3 linked regions of the Homo sapiens genome follow. The protein of the gene in region 2 purifies or fractionates together with the protein of the main gene of each other region. This does not show direct contact. Each region holds a gene or a part of one and is shown on either strand. Other genes may lie near its edges.

Region 1 (7,145 bases), on a different chromosome or scaffold from region 2:
ACTTCCTTTACAGAAGTCACCTGGGGTTCAAAAATGAAAGTAAAATAATCTGGCAATTGTGAAAGCTTTCTGAAAATCTTTCTCCTCCAAAGTCCTAAGGAAATTTAAACCAATCATGCCCATGGTCAGATGAACAGATTTTAAGTAAATCTAAGAACATCCCTTATTATTTTTTATTTTGTTTACTAGAACATATTTAAACGAACTGAGAGTCCAGAGAAAGTAGGTTATTATAGAAAACATTTCCCTTCGCCCTTAAAATCACTGGATTTGGGTTATTCACTTTGAAGTTCTACTATGATCCAGTTTCCCATCAAAAGGGAAGCACTTTTAGCCACTGAAATCTAAGAGGACTTTCTTCAATGGCACCCAGCAGAAAAGGAAAAAAATGAAAAGGAAAAAAATCTTCTTGCATTTGAAACGTTATTAGTCTTACATGAAAGACATTACCTTCCAAAAAACAATAATGAAGACTGACTAGTTCAAGTCAGAAACCCAGGTTTGAGGTTTCCAAGGCCCTTTTATTAGGGGAAGTTCCCCTTTATAGCACAAGACTTCACAAATGTGTTGACAACAATCAGATTCATTTCTTAAAATTATGGAGAAAAAAGGGAAAAACAAAACAGATGCACTTTTTATATATATTGAACATAAATTAAAAGAATTTATAAAACAGCCACCTTTTTACAGAATAAATGCAGACTGAATTATAAATGCACCTCCACGTTGAAGTTGTTTTGAGTTGCTTTTCATTTTCCAATAATAAATAAATAGAATTTGTTCTTGAGTTTTAGATCCACCTGAGCCACGGCAGGACTCTAAGTCATGAATGGGCTTTCTTCCCTTGGTCGCTCCTGTGCGCAGCATGTGAGTGTGCTGAGGTTACAGATTTCATTGGCCCACCAGCGTGTATGCTATCCTTTCGGGGTGGCATTCGCTCATTAATTCGGTCCAGACCTCGCGCTTCTTCAAAACTCCGGATCTTGTGCTGAAGCGAGAACCCTCTGATGGCTACAGAAAAACAGGAAGCAGGTGGAGAGAGCTCAATTAGGCAGCAAAGCAACAGGCTTAAAAAAAGTTTCTTAGCACACAGCAACCTCCTAGAGAAACACACAGAAAGGTGGCTATGGAGCACACGTCTAGTGAAAGTCATGGGCAATGTCTGACTGAATCAGTCTTGGCTGCAGCTACTGCTTCCTTAAAGCCCAAAGGGCAGCTGAAATTGTGAAAGTAATTTTCATAAAAGCTCTATATGCATAATCATGGTAGACATATACCTAACAAAAAGCTAACAAGTACTTACTGGGCCCCAGTACCTTTAAGAAAGAGTGTCTTATGCACCAGAAACATACTCAATGCTAGAACAAAGGCAACACTAGAATAATTGAACAAGTTAAACCCAGGGTAGTTGCTTTTCGCACAAAGGCCACATAGACCACAAAAAAAAGTAACAAAAGAGCTAATCTTTTCGTTTAGGACAGCTTTCTATCTTGCACAACCAGGAGCTGTACATAAGTTAAAAACTTAAAAATAGCTTCTACATATTTTCCTTCCGATTCAACTTTTATAACACCAAGTTAAGGCATTCGCGTTTTGAACCATCTTACCTAATAAAACAATTACAAGTATAATACAAGTTTATCAGTTCCAATGGTTTTCATAGAAACAAAGTTAATTTAACTTGCCTACCTTAGGGCAACCTCAGAAATGAATTGAACTAAATTCCAGTCTACTTCTGCCTCTGCTCTTGAAATCTTTTAGAATCGCTGAAGAGGCTGACCTATTTGGCTCTCTTGAGAATCAAATGGATGTCTCTTGTACATGGAAGGGATACAGAAGTAAACCACTTGACCTCTCATGACCAGTTGCTTAAGCTTCTGCCGTTGCATTAAAGCTGATAGAGCCCAGAAAAAAAACTGTAGCTGTGGTGAAGGTTATTTAAAATTAATGCAAAGATAGGACACAAAGGAAACACCTGCTTCGTTAACATGCCTAGAAACAACTATACCTTTTCTCACTGTTATAGTTCTGGTGATGCAATAATAAAATATTTGAAATGTTGATAAAGCTTCGAAAAACCAGTACACAGACACATGGATCACATCTATCAGAGTAATATGGCCATACCTTCCCGGGCCTCTACCGCTTCTACTGTGGCTGTAAGAGGGCAGGAGCAGTAGCATGCAAAAACGAAGACAGAAAAAGAGTGAGTAAACCAACAGCACTGATGGCAGCACAGCCATCCCAGGGGCCCGTTTTTTAGCCTATCCCCATCCATAATGAAAGTCAACTAGTTAGAGAAGCGAGAAGATTATTGCGAGAGACTCAATTGGGGTGGGAGGAATATGGGGTGGGGGAGAGTTTCTAATATTTTTAACATTTCAGGTGCCATGGAACATTGCTCTTTTCATTTTAGGTAGCCAACTGCTACTTTATATCTTGATATCCACGTATCGAAACAACATGTAGAATCAAATAGTTTGACATCACAACAATCCTTAGTTTGTAAAATATCTCAGGTGATATTAAATGAGCTACTGCTGGGTCCTATTCAAAAAGCTTATTTACAACTACATCTTACTGCTCTCAAGTGACTTATTTGGAGTCCAACTGCCCTATTAATTACTTCATTTAAAAAAAAAAGAGTGGCCTTTGAACAGCAGACTGGCATTTGGAAGGAGAGAAAAATAGGTTCCATGTGAAGGGTTATTTCTTGTCCAGGAGTGGAGTACAAAGCTAACAAAAGCATAGAACTATTGAATTCCTAATGCAAATGTGTGTACCCATCTGCTATAAAAATATAGCAGAGGCTAATGTTTCCAATCCATATGGCTTCCATACAGTGTTCAAGAGAGTTGGCCAGTAACTAAGAAAGCCCTCTTCTTTCTTAGCAATGGAAAAGGAAGCAACTTAAAAATTAGTACCAACAGGTAAACTTCCTTGCATCTCCTTTCTCAGACAGTAAAAACGCTAATATATGAAAAGGTACAGGGTGCCACAAGAAAGATCCTATTAGGAGAACCCTGTCAGTTACTCCAGTACCAATTTGCCAAAAGAAGGCAGTGAAGAATAATGAGCAGTAACAGTTTGCTGCTATTCCCAAGGCTTTATATATCAATATGAGAAGAGAAACTGAAAGAACTACATTAACTACCTAATGGAATGTGAAAAATGGATAACTGAAATCTACTTATGAAGTGCTTTCATTTGTCAACCATAGGCAGGCATGTATTAAATCACTGTCACACCCTCTCTAATCTCCTTAAGTAGAACAAATACCCTTGACAAGAAAGCTACAGTGCCTTCTCACAGCACATCACTGATGTAACTGTTAGGAAGTGGGAGAACAAAGCATTGCTGAAACTCTACACTGAGTGTTGGTCTAATTAGAGCTTAAAAGCTACACGGTAAAATGTGTATGATATTACCTTGTTTGGGGCCCTCCCAGAATTGCTATTCACATTGGGTATAAAGATAGCAGCCTGCAGTAAGGGCCATTATAAGAAACAGTCATATCAAATGACCCGAACTTTTGTTTTCCTTTTTAACATCTTAACTGAAATAGAATTCATATACCACAAAACTCACTTGTTTAAAGTATACAAGTCAATGGTTTTAATATAGTAGAGCTGTGCAACCATCACCACAATCTGTGCTTAGAATATTTTCATTGCCCCAATGAGAAATCCCCCACTTATTAGCACTCACTTCCCATTTCCTTCCCTCACCTCTTCCCCTTAATCCTGGTTGAACACGAATCTACTTTCTCTCTAGATTGGTCTGTTCTGGACATTTCAAATGAGTGGCATCATATAATATGTGGTCTGTAGTGACTGACTTCTTTCACTTAGCATAATGTTTTCAAGGTTCAGTCATGTTGACATGTATACCTGCATTTAATTCCTTTTTATGGCTGAATAGTATTCCATTGCGTTTACCACATTTTGTTTATCCAGTTTATGGACAATTGCTTTTTTCTGCTTTTTGGCTATTATGTTGAATGCCATTTATGAACATTTGTGTACAAGTTTTTGCGAGGACATATTTTCATTTCTTTGTGGGGTATGTAGCTATGACTGGAATTGCTGAGTAATAAGTCAATTCTATGTTTAATCATTTGAAGACCTGTCAGAATGTTTTCCAAAGCAGCTGTACCATTTTACATTTCCACCAGCAGTGTTAAGAAGGTCCCAATTTCTCCACATTCTCATCAACACTTCTTATTAACTGCTGTCTTTTCACAGCCATCCTACTGACTGTGAAGTGGTATCCCATTGTGGTTTTGATTAGCATTTTCTGAATGTCTAATGATGTCAAACATCATTTCATGTGCCATTTGTATGTCTTCATGGGAAAAATGTCAATTCAATTCTTTACCCATTTTTAACTGGGTTGTCTTCTTATTCAGTTGTAAGAGTATATTTTCTAGATACCAATCTCTTAGGAGATATATGATTTGAAAACATTTTCAACCATTCTGTGGGATGTCTTTTCATTTTCTTGATAGTACCATTTGCAGTACAGAGTTTTTAATTTTGATGTAGTCCAATTTATAACTGATCTGTTTTAATCTGATGGTCTTTGTGAATCTTGTCCTGTCCTTGGCTTTCCCCACTATTTTGGCTACTGGGATGCTTAGAGTCAAATTTGTGGCTATTGGCTTTATTTTTATTTACCTTTGTGCTTCAATTTCCAAGCATATTTATTTTACTCCACTATGTTTCATGTATACTGTAACTCACGCCAATCCCTCTTAGATCAAGGTGAGACATACATGAATGTATGTTACATGGCCATATGGGATACTGTTGGTTGAAAGCTCTCCAAGTTAAGTTATATGAACAATAAAAGGTCTTTTTTAGTTAATGCTCCAGTTAGCCAATGAGCTGGTGGAACTGAGACTCCAATGTGAAAATAACAAAATAAACTCACTTCCTGTGAATCAATAAGAATAAGAAACTCTAAAAAGTTGGCTCCAACTTTACCTTTGTTCTCACACATTACTGAAGATTTCTATCAACTTTGGAAGTATCAATCAATGGTCCTATCTTGATTAAAACACTCATATTCAACTCATACTTTGGGGCTGAGCCCAAAAGGTGACCAAGAATTAGAAACAAATTTCCAAATAACATAGCTATATAATTCTGTTGCTCAGCCCTGATTTGCAGATTTGCTTTCTCAAGGTTTAGACAAAGTTGGTTTCAATTAAAACAATTTTGTGGATCAGCAAATTTTCATAATGTTTACCTAAGGATGCTATAGGACATTCCTTTTTTTCTCTTAACTCATGTTACTGCCTATTACTCTATCTTTGTTGTCAGAGTTGCTCTCGGAATATCTCAGATGACTAATTACCAAGCAAAGCAATGGTGGGAACATATTCTGCTCACAAAAAACTGCACATTTATTTGAGAAAAATATTCAATCGGAAATAGTTTACTGATACTTTCTGTGAAACTAAAGGAACTAGGAAAATAAACTATACTTCCAAAGAGAAAATGTTCAGACTTCCTTCTAAATAGCTGAACTCTAATATCTCAGTATTCTATTTGAAAGAGAAGGAGGAATTCAATCTTATAAAAAGAAAAAAGGGCTGGGCACGGTGGCTCACGCCTGTAATCCTAGCACTTTGGGAGGCTGAGGCGGGCATATTGCCTGACCTCAGGAGTTCCAGACCAGCCTGGGCAACATGGTGAAACCCCATCTCTACTAAAATATAAAAAATTATCCGGGCATGGCGGTGTACGCCTGTAGTTCCAACTACTTGGGAGGCTGAGGCAGGAGAATTGCTTGAACCTGGGAGGCGGAGATTGCAGTGAGGCAAGATCGTGCCACTGCACTCCAGCGTGGGCAACAGACCAAGACTCTGTCTCCAAGAAAAGAAAAAAAATGGGTTTGTCCCTGTTAGTCAATAGCAATGAAATTTCTACAAAAGAAAAAGGACTCCTATAAATGGCAGGATGGCCAGGCACAGTGGCACATGCCTGTAGTCCCAGCCACTCGAGTAGCTGAGGCAGGGGGATTGCTGGAGCCCAGCAACCGGGCGCTGCCATGAGCTATGACAGTACCTAGCCATTACATTCTAGCCTGGGCAACTCTGTCTCTTGGGAAAAAAAAAGAAAAAGAAAAAAGGCCAGATGAACGATGAGGTGGGAAAAAAACTAAATAGAAACAATTCAACAAAACAAGGGGAGCAAAAAAAGCAGTTAAACTTTAGTTTAAGATATTAATGCTTCAATACCAATTTTCATACCTAGTGTTAGTCACCCAGTAATATGATCTCCTGTCTCTTCCCCTTGCATGTTTATTCTCACGAACATCAACCTTTTCATTCCGGGATTCCAGAAAGCCCTTTCCTAAGAAGTCAGCTCCTGGGTAAATTTCAGAATTGGTACTCTGATTGAAGAGGTGATTTTGGCACTGGAATAGAATATGGCTGCAGGGAAAGAGGCAAACTCCCTCTCTGATTGAGAAACTGCAACCCCCTCAAACTGTTTTCTTTAAGGTACAAAATATACACGAGGCACAGCAGGTGCACAAATCTGAAGTGTACAGCTCAACACATTCTTACATAAGTATACGCATGTCTAACTACCACCATGATAATGATACAGAACATTCCTAACACTCTAGATGTTCCCTGTGCCCTTCTGGGACAATATTCTCCCACCAGAGGAAGTGACATTCTGACTTTATTATCACTGATTAGTCCAATGGTTCTTAAATATTATATAAATCAGACAGTCTGTGCTCTTTTATGTCTGGCTTTTGCAGTTTTCTGTAATGTCTATGAGATTCAACCATGTTGTAGCATGTGTCCATAATGTGTTATTTTTTATTGCTGAGTATTATTCCATTGTATAAATAGAATACAGTTTATTTATTTATATTTCGGAATACAATTTATTTATGTAGTCTGCTACTGATGGACATCTGGGTTGTTTCCAGCTTTGAGCTATTATGAATAAAGCTACAGTGAACATTCCCATGCATAACCTTTGGTGAACACATCCAGTTTCTCTTGGATATACACCAGGTGTGGAACTGCTGGGTTACAGGGTAGACATATGTTTAGCTTTACTGCCCAGTAGTTTTCTAAAGCGCTTGAATCAATTTACAAGCCCTTTAGCAACATACCTAGT
Region 2 (8,196 bases):
GTATGTGTCTTTATAGCAGCATGATTTATAATCCTTTGGGTATATACCCAGTAATGGGATGGCTAGGTCAAATGGTATTCCTAGCTCTAGATCCCTGAGGAATCGCCACACTGACTTCCACAATGGTTGAACTAGTTTACAGTCCCACCAACAGTGTAAAAGTGTTCCTATTTCTCCACATCCTCTCCAGCACCTGTTGTTTCCTGACTTTTTAATGATCGCCATTCTAACTGGTGTGAGATGGTATCTCATTGTGGTTTTGATTTGCATTTCTCTGATGGCCAGTGATGATGAGCATTTTTTCATGTGATTTTTGGCTGTATAAATGTCTTCTTTTGAGAAGTGTTTGTTCATATCCTTTGCCCACTTTTTGATGGGGTTGTTTGTTTTTTTCTTGTAAATTTGTTGGAGTTCATTGTAGATTCTGGATATTAGCCCTTTGTCAGATGAGTAGATTGCAAAAATTTTCTCTCATTCTGCAGGTTGCCTGTTCACTCTGATGGTAGTTTCTTTTGCTGTGCAGAAGTTCTTTAGTTTAATTAGATCCCATTTGTCAATTTTGGCTTTTGTTGCCATTGCTTTTGGTCTTTTACACATGAAGTCCTTGCCCATGCCTATGTCCTGAATGGTATTGCCTAGGTTTTCTTCTAGGGTTTTTATGGTTTTAGGTCTGACATGTAAGTCTTTAATCCACCTTGAATTAATTTTTGTATAAGGTGTAAGGAAGGGACCCGGTTTCAGCTTTCTACATATGGCTAGCCAGTTTTCCCAGCACCATTTATTAAATAGGGAATCCTTTCCCCATTGCTTGTTTTTGTCAGCTTTGTCAAAGATCAGATAGTTGTAGACATGCGGCATTATTTCTGAGGGCTCTTTCCTGTTCCATTGGTCTTGGTATCAGTTTTGGTACCAAGTACCATGCTGTTTTGGTTACTGTAGCCTTGTAGTATAGTTTGAAGTCAGGTAGCATGATGCCTCCAGCTTTGTTCTTTTGGCTTAGGATTTACTTGGCAATGTGGCCTCTTTTTTGGTTCCATATGAACTTTAAAGTAGTTTTTTTCAATTCTGTGAAGAAAGTCATTGGTAGCTTAATGGGGATGGCATTGAATCTATAAATTACCTTGGGCAGTATGGCCATTTTCATGATATTGATTCTTCCTACCCATGAGCATGGAATGTTCTTCCATTTGTTTGTATCCTCTTTTATTTCCTTGAGCAGTGGTTTGTAGTTCTCCTTGGAGAGGTCCTTCTCATCCCTTGTAAGTTGGATTCCTAGGGATTTTATTCTCTTTGAAGCAATTTTGAATGGGAGTTCACTCATGATTTGGCTCTCTGTTTGTCTGTTATTGGTGTATATGAATGCTTGTGATTTTTGCACATTGATTTTGTATCCTGAGACTTTGCTGAAGTTGCTTATCAGCTTAAGGAGACTTTGGGCTGAGACGATGGGGTTTTCTAGATACACAGTCATGTCATCTGCAAACAGGGACAATTTGACTTCCTCTTTTCCTAATTGAATGACCTTTATTTCCTTCTCCTGCCTAATTGCCCTGGCCAGAACTTCCAACACTATGTTGAATAGGAGTGGTGAGAGAGGGCATCCCTGTCTTGTGCCAATTTTTAACGGGAATGCTTCCAGTTTTTGTCCATTCAGTATGATATTGGCAGTGGGTTTGTCATAGATAGCTCTTATTATTTTGAGATATGTCCCATCAATACCTAAATTATTGAGAGTTTTTAGCATGAAGTGTTGTTGAATTTTGTCAAAGGCCTTTTCTGCATCTATTGAGATAATCATGTGGTTTTTGTCTTTGGTTTTGTTTATATGCTGGATTACATTTATTGATTTTCGTATGTTGAACCAGCCTTGCATCCCAGGGATGAAGCCCACTTGATCATGGTGGATAAGCTTTTTGATGTGTTGCATAAATCTTTCCATACATATTTATAACTTCTTTATGCCTTTTGAAAAATTCAATACTGTAAATGGGACTTTTTTAAAAGTGGGGATAGAGTTGTTAGCTGAAAAATCTGAATAGCTGGCAATGAAGTTTGGAATTTGAAAAATGAGAATCGCAAGCCAGAATGGATTTTGACCTCCTTCATGTGATATAACTTCTATTTAGTATTTATTCTATTTATTTTCTAAATGCAGATATTTTTGTTATATATTATCTCTCTTTTTTTTTTGTTTTATAAAAAGTAACCTTACCTACATAAGAAAGTATATCCAATTGACCAATCTTCCACCATTCCATTTTTTCTACATTCACAGGACTTAGTAGCCATGAAGGTCCTCATCCTCGCCTGCCTGGTGGCTCTTGCTCTTGCAAGGGAGGTATGTGCACAAGAAAAAATTCCTAAACAATCAATAAATAGTGGACTATATGCTTATTTGTAGAGAATAACATCACCAACATTTTTTACTGTATAAATAATGAAGAATTTCATGAGAATTCTCTTGGCTTCTATCAAAATCATTTATATTTACCCACTGTCTCAACAGTTTCCTATAGTGCCCCAAATGCTTCCTGCACCAATGTGCTGCTAGTCACTAAAGAAAAAGCAAACAAATCAATAAGTAATAAAAAATCATAAAAATGGCAACGAAATATAATATTGCATAAATACAACTCCAAAGATTCTCAAGCTAGATAAATATATCTTATTCCAGTGATAAAATGTATATATACCTTACAGCCTAGGGCACTGGGTCAAATCCTGTGTCTGTCTGTACAAAGACATCCATGGGATGAAGTACAGAGACAATCATAATCATGATCATAAATATATTAATAATAATATAATAAAAATATTTAATACAAATTAAAGTGACTCTTCTTTTACCCATAAAAAACTCTGTCTTTAATAAATGTAAGATAAAAATATATTAATAGATTACTAAATATAAAAGACATTAAAGTAATTACCTTTTAAACCTCAAAAGTCATATAACATTTTTTATTTCTCAAATTTGTGAAAGAGATAGCTCTGCATAAGTGATGTAAAAATTAAGTAGGATGCATGTTTAACAATGAGTTAGCTATAGAAGTTGAATTTTTAAACATCTTTTCAGAAGGAACAATCCAATGCATCCTCTGAGGTGAGATTATTTTTTTAGAGAAAATTTATGAACCATAAAATAGTAAAATTCTCTAATGATCTAGAAGATTTAGCTGGTTGTCAATTTTTTTTTCCCACAGACCATAGAAAGCCTTTCAAGCAGTGAGGTAAGTTAACATTCTACCCAATTTTAGAACAGTAAAATCCTGTGCTATTTTTCTATGGTGTTACATCATGGCAGTTAAGCTAATGCAGCTATGTTAATGACATATAAGTTCTAGTACATATTTCTTTTATGTGTGTTTAAGGACAATAAGTATCTGGATAATACAACATTCTAGAACTTTGTAAATTGGCTTGCTACTTGAAATTGTGTTATTTTGCTTCTTTTTTTTTTAATGAACCATATTGTCCTGTTTTCTGCCTTGAACTCTCTTTACTCTGAACTTATTCACCTTAAGCATATACTGACGGCCTTCTATGGGTCAGACATTGACTAGGAGCTGTGGTACAAACTGAAAAGTTAGAGATGCCAGTGATAGTTAAGAGCTTGCTAAGTAGTAGGTAGGCAGACGTGCAAAAAGGACACATTTTATAATTACAATAGCCACTTTAGTAAATAAGCGAGATTTAGTGTAGTCCTAAATTTACCTGAGAGAGTCAGGTAGATATTTATTCTTACACCACTCTTCTTGGGTGTGTGATCACTTGATAAGTAAATGGTACATCAATAGATTCTGTCTCTTCAGAAAGGTTATATGATCCTTAAGGGAAGTGTTTAACTCTTATGATTCATTTGAAGTGATCATAATGTATCAATTGTTATTAGAATATATTTTCAATGAGTATTTCTTTTTTTAAAAATCAGATGGGGTTTTAGATATCATTTGTTGTCAGGGAATGAGCATGGTGGTAGAGAGAAATTAGCATCTATTAATTGCTTTTTTTTGTACCATGTCCTTCTTGACTGCATTCATCTGACTTTCTTTTACATAACAAGCTCATATAGAACAGTTTAATACATAAGTTTAATGATTATACAAAGTTATTAATGATATTATCAAAGAATTAATGCCTTTATTTCCTGATTTATATTGCAAAGTAAGAATTGTTAAAACTAAACCTAATTTTATTTTATATTTTTCTGTAGGAATCTATTACAGAATACAAGGTAAATTTTCACATTTAAAATGTACACATTTTCAAAATTTCCTCCTTTTAATCTTTACAGATGGTAACATATCTTTATATATGATATATCTTTAGCAGAAAGTTGAGAAGGTTAAACATGAGGACCAGCAGCAAGGAGAGGTAATTTGTTAATGATAAGTATATGTTTAAAATTATTATAAAGTATAATACATACAAAAATATTTATAATGTGTATGTTGATTCTAAAGAATGATAATAAAATAAATGCCATATACCCACCAACCACTTTAAAAATTAAACATTGATAAAGTCAATATATTTTCTAGGATATGCATGCATTTTTAAACTCATAATTAATTTCTAGAATACAGACTAAATACATAATGATATTACTAATGGTATATCTGTTTTCAACAAGTACACATTGGTGGGAACATTTCCAGGTTGGGAACTATGATCCTCTTATTTCCAAGGTGGATATGGTAATGAAAAGGTGTATACGGCTGGTAAAAAAACCTATGTAAAATTTGTCCCATATTGCCTTTATTCCCATATGGACAACACAAAATCCTGTATTTCATTAAATTACATTTATGGTGATATGTTTACCCAATTATAATTTTCAATTGCTTTGTGTACCAATGAATTGTTTGGAGTCACATAAAATATTTCTAAAATCAAATTTAAACAAAAAAATTGATGTCTCTTGAAAGACTCAAGAGACTATCTTCTCCCAAGGGAAGGAATGTAAGAATTTGGCCGGTGTTAAATTACTTCCTGAGATTAGCCACAAATTAAGACTGATTTTCTTTTTCATCAAACCAAAACAAAACAAAAATAAACCTTGGAATTGTCCCTCTAAGTCTTTTTAAACTGATCTCTTTTCACTGTATGAAAACAATTTGGTCTACTATTGGCACAACTGTGTTGAAAAGTAAATTCTCTCTGAAGACCAAAGTGTACAGCTACAGCTATCCAGGCAATTCAGGAAAATGTTAAAAAAAGTGTTTCTGAAATATCCAAACATTGATTTCACTTTGGCCTGTGGAGTTACCCATGAAGTGAGTGGATTAAAATTTTTCAACAAACAGTTTACTCATTTTTCTTCGCATGACTCAAGATACTTTCTTAACCAAAATAAGTGAAATATTTTCTCCTCTCTTTTTACTCATTTATCATTGTCTAAAAGAGAGAAATGAATTCATTATGAATGGCAATTATAGCTTAATCAAGGACTCAAAGATTCTTTTTCCTTCTTTCCAGGATGAACACCAGGATAAAATCTACCCCTCTTTCCAGCCACAGCCTCTGATCTATCCATTCGTTGAACCTATCCCCTATGGTTTTCTTCCACAAAACATTCTGCCTCTTGCTCAGCCTGCTGTGGTGCTGCCTGTCCCTCAGCCTGAAATAATGGAAGTCCCTAAAGCTAAAGACACTGTCTACACTAAGGGCAGAGTGATGCCTGTCCTTAAATCTCCAACGATACCCTTTTTTGACCCTCAAATCCCAAAACTCACTGATCTTGAAAATCTGCATCTTCCTCTGCCTCTGCTCCAGCCCTTGATGCAGCAGGTCCCTCAGCCTATTCCTCAGACTCTTGCACTTCCCCCTCAGCCCCTGTGGTCTGTTCCTCAGCCCAAAGTCCTGCCTATCCCCCAGCAAGTGGTGCCCTACCCTCAGAGAGCTGTGCCTGTTCAAGCCCTTCTGCTCAACCAAGAACTTCTACTTAACCCCACCCACCAGATCTACCCTGTGACTCAGCCACTTGCCCCAGTTCATAACCCCATTAGTGTAAGTCCAAATTTACTGGCTTTGCTGTTTCATTCAAGATGTGTATGTGATGGTAGAATAAAAGAATAAATGTAGAGTAAATGAATTAAAAAAACAGTTTAGATAAGTGATTCTTTTATTATTATACTTTAAGTTTTAGGGTACATGTGCACAACATGCAGGTTAGTTACATATGTATACATGTGCCATGTTGGTGTGCTGCACCCATTAACTCGTCATTTAACATTAGGTATATCTCCTAATGCTATCCCTACCCCCTACCCCCACCCCACGACAGGTCCAGGTGTGTGATGTTCCCCTTCCTGTGTCCATGTGTTCTCATAGATAAGTGATTCTTAATGCTTACCTATACAATAGAATCACCTGGAGAACTTTTCCCCACAAATCCCAATGCCTAAGCTTACCCAGAGATTCTGATATAATTGTTCTAGTTTTTTGTGTAGAGGAAACTGAGTGTTGAGAAAAAAACTATTGCATGAATTCTGGTTTAATTAGTCTGTTGAGAATTCTGATTTAGATAAAGTAATTAAGGCTTACAAAAGCCGGAATTAAATTTAATAATATGATTGAATTTGGAAAAAAAAGCTAAAAAATGTTCTGTCATTTTCCTTGTGCACATCTCTTTTACACAAGCCTTACTTCACATCTTGTTTTTGCTATAAGTATATATGAAGGCAAAAGACTGAGATGCTTATTTCACTACTTACAACATTCTTAAGGCAAGTTTTCTTACTAAGAGGTTATTTATTTATTTATTTATTTATTTATTTTACACAAGCCTTACTTCACATCTGGTTTTTGCTGTAAATATATATGAAGGCAAAAGACGGAGATGCTTATTTCACTACTTACAACATTCTTAAGGCAAGTTTTCTTACTAAGAGGTTATTTATTTATTTGTATCTGTTTATTTTTAAGGTCTAAGAAGATTTCAAAGTTAATTTTCCCTCCTTATTTTTGGTAAGTTTTGGGAGTTTGGAGATTTAATTGATCATTTTTATACATGATGTCTTTTTACATTTAATTCTCCTAGAGAAGTCCAATACAGTGAAAATTTCATACATACAAGAACTTTTTTTATTAATTATCAATTTAATGGTTGACTATCATTTACTGACCTGAAACTATCTATCTTTTGCATTTCAAATAACTTTAATTTTATTTATGTACTATTGACAGATTTGACTGGCTTGCTTTCAAGGGCCTATATACTTACATTTGATTATCACTATTTTTAGGAAAGACAGAATATATACTTATTTTACTTTTATGGAAATACATTTGAGCTTTTGTCAAAAGCCTATTTGCATTTTTATTTCTAACCTAGCCTTCATAAAATTTGTATTTACTTTACTTAAAATTATCTTTTAATTCATGAGTTAAAATTACTCCAAGTGTAAAGGTTAAAAAGAGGAGAGAACAGCATTGCAATTCTAAGATATAAAGCCTTTTGGGATTATGAAATACCAGACATTTCACTGAAACAATTTCAAGTTCACTAATATTTGATGAACTTTGGTGAAGTTTGGTGAACAAACTTTACATGCCTCCAAACCGCAACAGAATGCATTTGCAATACAATTTCTTTTGTGAATTAGTCACACCAAAGTTAAAAGTGAAGAGAGTTGAATAGTTACGTGTTATAACATAACTAATTATATATTTGCTCTCTATTCCACAGAATTGACTGAGACTGGAAATATGATGCCTTTTCCGTCTTTGTATCACGTTACCCCAAATTAAGTATGTTTGAATGAGTTTATATGGAAAAAATGAACTTTGTCCCTTTATTTATTTTATATATTATGTCATTCATTTAATTTGAAATTTGACTCATGAACTATTTACATTTTCCAAATCTTAATTCAACTAGTACCACAGAAGTTCAATACTCATTTGGAAATGCTACAAACATATCAAACATATGTATACAAATTGTTTCTGGAATTGTGCTTATTTTTATTTCTTTAAGAATCTATTTCCTTTCCAGTCATTTCAATAAATTATTCTTAAGCATATTTCAGTTCTTCTGTCTTTTTTTCAAACCTAATCGGCCTCTTTAATGTTAACTTTGATTTATTATTGATGTTCAAAATAATCCTGGAAGAATGCTTTGAAATTGAATAGAATGTTTTGAATTGAATATTAAAAGATATCAAAAAGTGGAGGAAAAGAAAGGATGCTTTT
Region 3 (7,597 bases), on a different chromosome or scaffold from region 2:
CCTGTCCTGCTGTAGAAGAGGCAGAGACCACTTGAAAGAGAGAAAATTTTCACCTCCCTCCATGCACATCACTAACAAAGGACACAAGTCCACATTCTTTCCTTTTTTTTTGGTTCTCTTTCTCCCTCTGAATGTGTAGGTGTGTGTATAATTTTTTGTTTTCAGAACTCTTTGAGGGTAAGTTACATCCATCTTAGCCCTTCATCCCTAAATACTGTTTCCTAAAAATACAAATATTCTCTTACATTACTGCAGTACATTATCAACTTATATAAGTTTAATGTTGTGATAATACTGTAATCTACCGTTCTTGTTTAGATTTGTTAAATAATGTCCTTTATAGCGTTGTCCCCTCCAGTAGGGGATCCAGTCTAGGCGGAGGTGTCTGATCACTTTTTCCTGAGGGGAGAGACCTGGATTAGCCAGAGTATTTCCAGAGGGAGGCACAGGACCACCTCCTCTGTTTGCAGAGCTACTAAAATGCATGCATAGGCCAGGCACGGTGGCCCATGCCTGTAATCCCTAACTTTAGGAGGGCAAGTTGGGAAGATTGTTTGAGCCCAGGAGTTCAAGACCAGCCTGGGCAACATAGCAAGACCCCATCTCTACAAATAATTTTAAAAATTAGCTGAGCTTGGTGACACATGCCTGTAGTTCTTAGCCTGGAACTTGGGAGGGTGAGGTGGGAAGATTGTCTTACCCCGAGTTCGAGGCTACAGTGAATCATGATTGCACCACTGCACTCCAGCCTGGACAACAGAGTGAGACCCTGTCTCTTAAAAAAAAAAAAAACAAGTACAGTGGTCTCTACACAGATGGGGAGGTGATGGAAGAAGAGAAGGTTGGGTGTTCCCTGAGTCCACCCTGTTCTTGAAAGTCCCTCTAGAAAAAATCCCAAGACTATTGATTCTGCAAAGTCAAGGACTATGTTGAGTGTTCACCTTGCAATCAGCCCCTCCAACAGCACCTGTCCCCTGGGCACCTCGGGAATATTTGTGGGATGGATGGATGTTGGCCAGTTTTCTTCTCAGCTGTCTCTTTCACTTAGATATAAAAATGGCTGGGGGAGCATTCTGGTGGGTGGCTCAAGAACCTGGAACTAGATGGTGGATGTGGGAGGTCGAGGGCCTGGGTCCTGGTCCCTGTTCTGCCAGGGCCATGCAATGTGATGTGCAAAATGAGCAGATTGGTCACTGCCAGTCCAAGGTTCTGTGACTGAACTGGTGTGGTTTCTCTATGACCCCAAGAAATCCAAGTCTCTTGGTGGAGTTGGAAATAGCTTCAGGGCTGTGTGGCATGGGCTGGGGGACCTGTATGTCCCTCCCAGCACCTATACAGGAATTCTCATTAGGAAAGGGGAAAATGAGGGAAATGCCCTTTCTATGTAATTGAGGTAGAATTCACATACCAGAAAATTCACCGTGTTTTGTTTTTTGTTTGAGACAGGGTCCCATTCTGTTGCCCAGGCTGGAGTGCAGTGGCACAATCATAGCTGACTGCAGCCTCGACCTCCCAGGCTCAAGCAATCCTCCCACCTCAGCCTCCCAAGTAGCTGGAACTACAGGTGTGCGACACCATGCCTGGCTATTTATTTATTTATTTATTTTTGAGACGGAGTCTCACTCTATTGCCCAGGCTGGAACGCAGTGGCACAATCTCAGCTCACCGCAACCTCCACCTCCTGGGTTCGAGTGATTCTCCTGCCTCAGTCTCCCAAGTAGCTTGGATTACAGGCATGTGCCACCACGCCCGGCTAATTTTGTATTTTTAGTAGAGGTGGGGTTTCACCATATTGACCAGGCTGGTCTCAAACTCCTGACATCAGGTGATCCACCCATCTTGGCCTCCCAAAGTGCTGGGATTACAGCCGTGAGCCACCATGCCAGGCCTAATTTTTTGATTTTTTGTAGAGACGGGGTTTTGTCCTGTTGCCATGTTGGAAAATTCACCGTTTTAAGGTGTATAGTTCAGTGGATCTTAGTATATTCACAAGGTTGTGAATATACTGTGAATAAACTGTCACCACCACCTAATTTCAAAATCATTTTGTCACTCCAAAAAGACACCCCTCACTCATTAGCAGTCACCCCCTATTGCCCCTTCTCCCAAGCCTGAGGCAACCAGAATCTTGCCTTCTGTCTCCATGAATGTATCGTTCTGCATTTTTCTTTCTTTTTTTTTTTTTTTTTGAGACAGAATCTTGCTCTGTCGCCAGGCTGTAGTGCAGTGGCATGATCTTGGCTCACTGCAACCTCTGCCTCCTGGGTTCAAGCGATTCTACTGCCTCAGCCTCCCGAGTAGCTGGGACTACAGGCGTGCACCACCACGCCGGGCTAATTTTTTGTATTTTAGTAGAGACAGGGTTTCACCATGTTGGCCAGGATGGTCTCGATCTCCTGACCTCGTGATCCACCCGCCTCGGCCCCCCAAAGTGCTGGGATTACAGTCGTGAGCCACCGCGCCCAGCCCGTTCTGCATTTTTCATATGCATTACTTAGGGTTCCAGATACCAGGTACCAGGGGGATGCATTAATGTGCTCAGGCAATGAAACCACATCTGGAACATCATCTAAGTGGAATCACACAACGTGTGGCCTTTTGTGCCTGGCCTCTTCTTCTAGTGTTTTCTAGGTTAATCCATGCTGTAGCAGGGACCAGTACTTCATTCCTCTTTTTAGGGACAGTAGTATTCTGCTGCATGAATATACTGCATTTTGTATGTCCATTCTTCACTTGATGGGCATTTGGGTTGTTTCCACTTTCTGATATTATGAAGAATATTGTTGTGAACATTGGTGAACCAGTTTCTTTTTTTTTTTTTTTGAGACATAGTTTCACTCTTGTCACCCAGGCTGGAGTGCAATGGCGCAATCAGAGCTCACTGCAACCTCCACCTCCCAGGTTCAAGTGTTCTACCTCAGCCTCCTGAGTAGCTGGGATTACAGGTGCATGCTACCACGCCCGGCTAATTTTTGTATTTTTAGTAGAGACAGGGTTTCACCATGTTGGCCAGGCTGGTCTCGAACTCCTGACCTCAGGTGATCCACCCACCTTGGCCTCCCAAAGTGCTGGGATTAGGTGAAACAGTTTCTTGCGGACTTATCTTTTCATTTTCCATGGAGATAGACCTAGGAGTGGAATTGCTGGGTCATGTGGGAACCGGTTAACCTTTTGAGGAACTGCCAGACTATTTTCCAAAAGAGCTGCACCATTTTACATGCCTACCAGCAGTGTGTGAGGGGAAATGCCCTTTTATTGAACATCTGCCATGTGCTAGGCACTGTGCCATACCTCCTCTCCCATGATCCTCACACCAACCTGTGAAATACCTGTGATTGCTCCCTTTTACTGAGGAGGACACCAGAGCTCAGAGAAGTGAAGTAACTCCCCCAGGATCCCACAGGGAATAAGAAGTAAGGCCTAGATTCACACCCAGCTCTGTCCCTTATGTTTTCCTGTTGACTGGTTGCTAACTGACTATGTGACTGTCCAGATGCTAATGTGGAATCCACCTCCTCCCCAACCCTCCTGGGCACTGTCTTGCAGACAGGGAAGTTGGACCCCCACTACCCAAAAGTCTGCGGGCACAGAGGCAACGTTTTGGATGTCAAGTGGAACCCTTTTGATGATTTTGAGATCGCCTCCTGTTCTGAAGATGCCACAGTGAGTGTCAGCCCCTGAGGGGCTTCCCCTTCCTGAAGAGTGGGATTGGGGTGGTTGGGGTGGAATGGTACCTGTTCTTGGCTCTGGTGCCCCTGACTCCATCGCGGAGGTGAGGTCACTGTGTGGGGAGGTGTTAAGTTAAGGTAGAGGAGGAGACATTCTTGGTGCTGTAGGACTAGCGGCACCACCCCTCCTCTCTATGGGCCTTAGTTCCCCCCCATATAAAATGGGCATAATAGTTCCACCCAGCTAATAAAGCCCAGTGAAAATGTATATTCCGATGGGAAAACCCATCCTTCGGGGAGCTATAAAAGGCTATGAGGGGCATTTTTATGGTGATCAGAAAAGATGTTCCACTTAATCCCATAGTGAGGAAGCGAGCTATAAAAGGCTGTGAGGGCCTTGGATGAATGTGGACACTAAAACCATTCCAGCAGCTTCAGTCTCACTCACTTTTTTGAGCCCGTGTTCTGTACCAGGGTTATCATCCCTGCCCCAACAATGTTCAGTGTTACTTATTTACAATTCATTTTGTACCCACTTCTAAAATATGGTGGTATGGCTTAAGACAAGAACCACAGATATGCCAGGTTCAGTGGCTCACACCTGTAATCTCAGCACTTTGGGAGACTGAGGTGGGAGAATCACTTGAGGCCAGGAGTTGGAGACCAACCTAGGCAACATAGTGAGACCCTGTCTCTATTAAAAAATTAAAAAACACAGATATGATCAGATGATTAAAATAAAGATAAAAGTCATTGTCACCATTTATTGTGAGCCCACTGTATTCCTAACTGTCATCACACTTATCATTTCACAGTCTCCCCAGCAACCCCACAAGGTAGGATATTTTTCTGATGGAGAAGCTGAGGATCAGAGAGGTACAGCAATTTGCCTAATGTTACACAGCCTGTGGGAGGCAGAGCAAGACTTCAGACTGAGGCCTGTCTGATTCCACAGCCCATTCTCTTTCCAATGTGCTGTGACACATCTTTAAAGAGAAGCAGCCACAGATGGAGAAACTGAGGAAATACTAGAAATGATGGCTAAGAAGGGTTGCAGCAGCTAAGCTGCTAGTTTAGCTAAGAGCTACCTGGCAGCCAAGGCAAAATGGGCAACAGAATGTATTGCAAAACCTTCAGTTAGATCAAAAGAAGCAGACCAGTTCATCAGGAAAGGAAGGCAGAAAATTCAAAGAGGATTTGTGTCGGTTTCCATATAGCAGATGCTGAGGAACGTAAAGGACAGTGTCTGCCGAGGTGATTTCACCAAAGGGACAATCAGGTCCTGTGAGAATTGGCCCTGTCCCCAGGGAGTATAGGGCCTCTGGCAGGATATCAAATATCTGAAACTGTCCCCACTTTTGTGATACCTGCCTTTTCAGGACTGCTTTGAAGGCTCCCATCAAGATCTTTATAAATCTCTTGCTAGCCTCATTGCCTGCCACTGCCCCTTCCCCGATGCCCCAGGGCAGGACGTGACTGTTGGGGGACTGAAGAAGGAAGGGGCTTTCCTCCCCGAAGCTATGCCCACAGTGAATTTATGGGGTGTTCCTCCCTGCCTTCAGGGCCTGGAGGGCACGGTTGCTCCTCTAGCAGTGGGGAGTCTTCTCTGCTTCAGTGTTGCGGGTGGTACCTTCATCTTCCAAACATACCTCTTCAGAGTGTGTCTTCCTCCCGGGGTTCTATGCAGTGACAGCCCTCATCAGACCGAAGTATCTGGAGCCTGTCACTACTCTCGTGGGGTTGGCTTCCTGGTTTTAAATCCAAGATGACCAGGAAATAAATATTTGCTGAATTGAAAGCAAAGTCGTCTACCTGAAAAACCTGTATACCTCTAAGGGAAACAGTGCATACAATCAACTAGGGGCCAGAGAACCTTGCAGGACCAATAAGGAAGATCAAGTCAGCAGCATCCCAGGATCACCTTGTACTCCATTTGTATACCTCTGTGACAGGGAGCTTACTCTCTGCCATGGCAGCCCCCTCCATCTTCAGACAACACTACTCTGGAAGGAAGTCCCAGCACCTCTTCTCAGGCCCTCACCATGAAATACAGGCCCATGACCCCATCCAGCCCAGCCTCCTGACCTTCAGAGTTTCCTCTTGCAGGCCATCCAGGGTGCACCTCCAAAGCAAGAAGTTTGTCCCTGCCCTGCTGCAGAGACCTCGCCGGCTCCCTAGTGCCTGAGGATGCAGCCTAAACCCTTCATCCTGGCATTTGAGGCTCTACCCTGGGTCTTTGGGACAAGAAGAACACTGTACTTTGGGGATATCCTAGCTTAGGAGACAGGCCTGAAACCCAGCCACCTGCCCACCACCTCAGGCCAGCAGGATGACAAAGATCTCTCAAGGGCAGATTTGGAGGCCTAGACTCATCCCTGGTCAGCGCTGGCCCCTGCTCAGGCTGGAGGAGCTTGGGGAAGCCCCTGTCTGTCTGAGGACCCTCAGCTGCCCCTCCACTGCCCCTCAATGCCCATAGCCACTGAGTGGGAGGTGGCTATGGAGAGAGCTCCCTTGGTCCTTCTGCTGGTCACTGCCAGATCTGTGGCTTAGGCTGGTGACGGTGCCAAGGTGCCCTGGCTAATGCTGCCTTGGGCCCTGTCTCCCCTGCCAGATTAAGATCTGGAGCATCCCCAAGCAGCTGCTGACCAGGAACCTCACGGCCTACAGGAAGGAACTCGTGGGCCACGCGCGCAGAGTAGGCCTGGTGGAGTGGCACCCCACGGCCGCCAACATCCTCTTCAGTGCTGGCTATGACTACAAGGTGAGTCTGGGTATTCTTTCTCTGGGGCAGCCCCAACAAGTTCCCACAAACTGGAATACAATGGAAATGTATTCTGTCACAGTTCTGGAGACCAGAAATCGAAAATCAAGGTGTTGGGAGAGCCAGCTCCCTCCAGATGCCCTAGGGAAGAATCCTTCCATGCCTCTCCCAGCTTCTGGTGGCTCCAGGCATCCTTGGCTATAGCTGCGTCACTCCAGGCTCTGTTTCTGTCTTCACACGGCCTTCTCTCTGTGTACCTGTCTTCCTTATAGGAAGAGGAGAGCAACTATCATTGGATTTAGGGCCCACCTAATCCATTATGATCTCATCTTAACTAATTTCAGCAGCGAAGACCCCATTTCCAAATAAGGTCACATTCTGAGGTTCCAGGTGGACATGAGTTTTGGGGGGAACCCTGTTCAACTCATTATAGCCTGCCCGGAGTGGATGGGATGGCACTGCCCAGAAAATCGTTCCCCCGACCCTGCTCCACTGACAATCAAGCATGCAGGCAGTAGGCCCTGTAGATTGGGACCCACAGTACAGGAGACCTCAATTCTATTCCGACTCAGTCTCTGACCTGCACTATAGCCTGGGAAAGTGCCTTGACTTCTCTAGGCCTCAGTTTCCCAATCTGTACACAAATGGAATTGGTGGCACCATAGCTATGGCCTTTCAGTTCTTTCCTTTTGACACTATAGGGGTTTACAGAGACACCTCGGGACCCTCTGTGTTGGATAAAAGGGAGGTGGGGGGCCGGACATGGTGGCTCACACCTGTAATCCCAACAGTTTGAGAGGCTGAGGTGGGAGGATCACTTGAGCCCAAGGATTTGAGACCAGCCAACATAGTGAGACCCCATCTCTACAAAAAAATAGAAAAAATTAGCCAGGTGTGGGAAAATGCGTCAAGTAGTCCCAGCTACTCAGGAGGCTGAGGTGGGAGGATCACTTGAGCCCAGGAGGTTGATGCTACAGTGAGCCATGATCATGCCACTGTACTGCAGCCTGGGCAATCCTGTCTCAAAAATAAATAACTAAAATTGTTGTGGGGAGCACTGAGGGAACCTGGGCCCTCGCTCTTCCGATCCACAGCGCTTTCTCATCTGTTTGTATGGGGTGTCTGCAGAGCTGCTGCGTGTATTTGTGCTGGTTGTTCTATACCCAAC

The links.
Region 1: the proteins of CSN2 (region 2) and PPP3CC purify together in Homo sapiens (affinity purification with mass spectrometry; 2 studies listed by BioGRID and IntAct, with this or other methods). This does not show direct contact.
Region 3: the proteins of CSN2 (region 2) and CORO2A purify together in Homo sapiens (affinity purification with mass spectrometry; 2 studies listed by BioGRID and IntAct, with this or other methods). This does not show direct contact.

Annotation. Positions count from the first base shown.
Region 1 is NC_000008.11:22,534,481-22,541,625, reverse strand, and holds the end of PPP3CC (serine/threonine-protein phosphatase 2B catalytic subunit gamma isoform), read right to left. Parts: intron 2,158-7,145; coding exon 2,128-2,157; intron 1,895-2,127; coding exon of another isoform or gene 1,758-1,894; exon of another isoform or gene 1,690-1,757; intron 1,012-1,689; coding exon 824-1,011; 3' UTR 501-823; downstream 1-500. UniProt on the Homo sapiens protein: Calcium-dependent, calmodulin-stimulated protein phosphatase which plays an essential role in the transduction of intracellular Ca(2+)-mediated signals. Dephosphorylates and activates transcription factor NFATC1.
Region 2 is NC_000004.12:69,955,087-69,963,282, reverse strand, and holds the end of CSN2 (beta-casein isoform 1 precursor), read left to right. Parts: intron 1-2,275; 5' UTR 2,276-2,287; coding exon 2,288-2,338; intron 2,339-3,203; coding exon 3,204-3,230; intron 3,231-4,213; coding exon 4,214-4,234; intron 4,235-4,329; coding exon 4,330-4,374; intron 4,375-5,478; coding exon 5,479-6,009; intron 6,010-6,927; coding exon 6,928-6,933; 3' UTR 6,934-6,969; intron 6,970-7,690; 3' UTR 7,691-8,027; downstream 8,028-8,196. UniProt on the Homo sapiens protein: Important role in determination of the surface properties of the casein micelles.
Region 3 is NC_000009.12:98,133,638-98,141,234, reverse strand, and holds part of CORO2A (coronin-2A), read left to right. Parts: intron 1-3,546; coding exon 3,547-3,663; intron 3,664-6,279; coding exon 6,280-6,429; intron 6,430-7,597.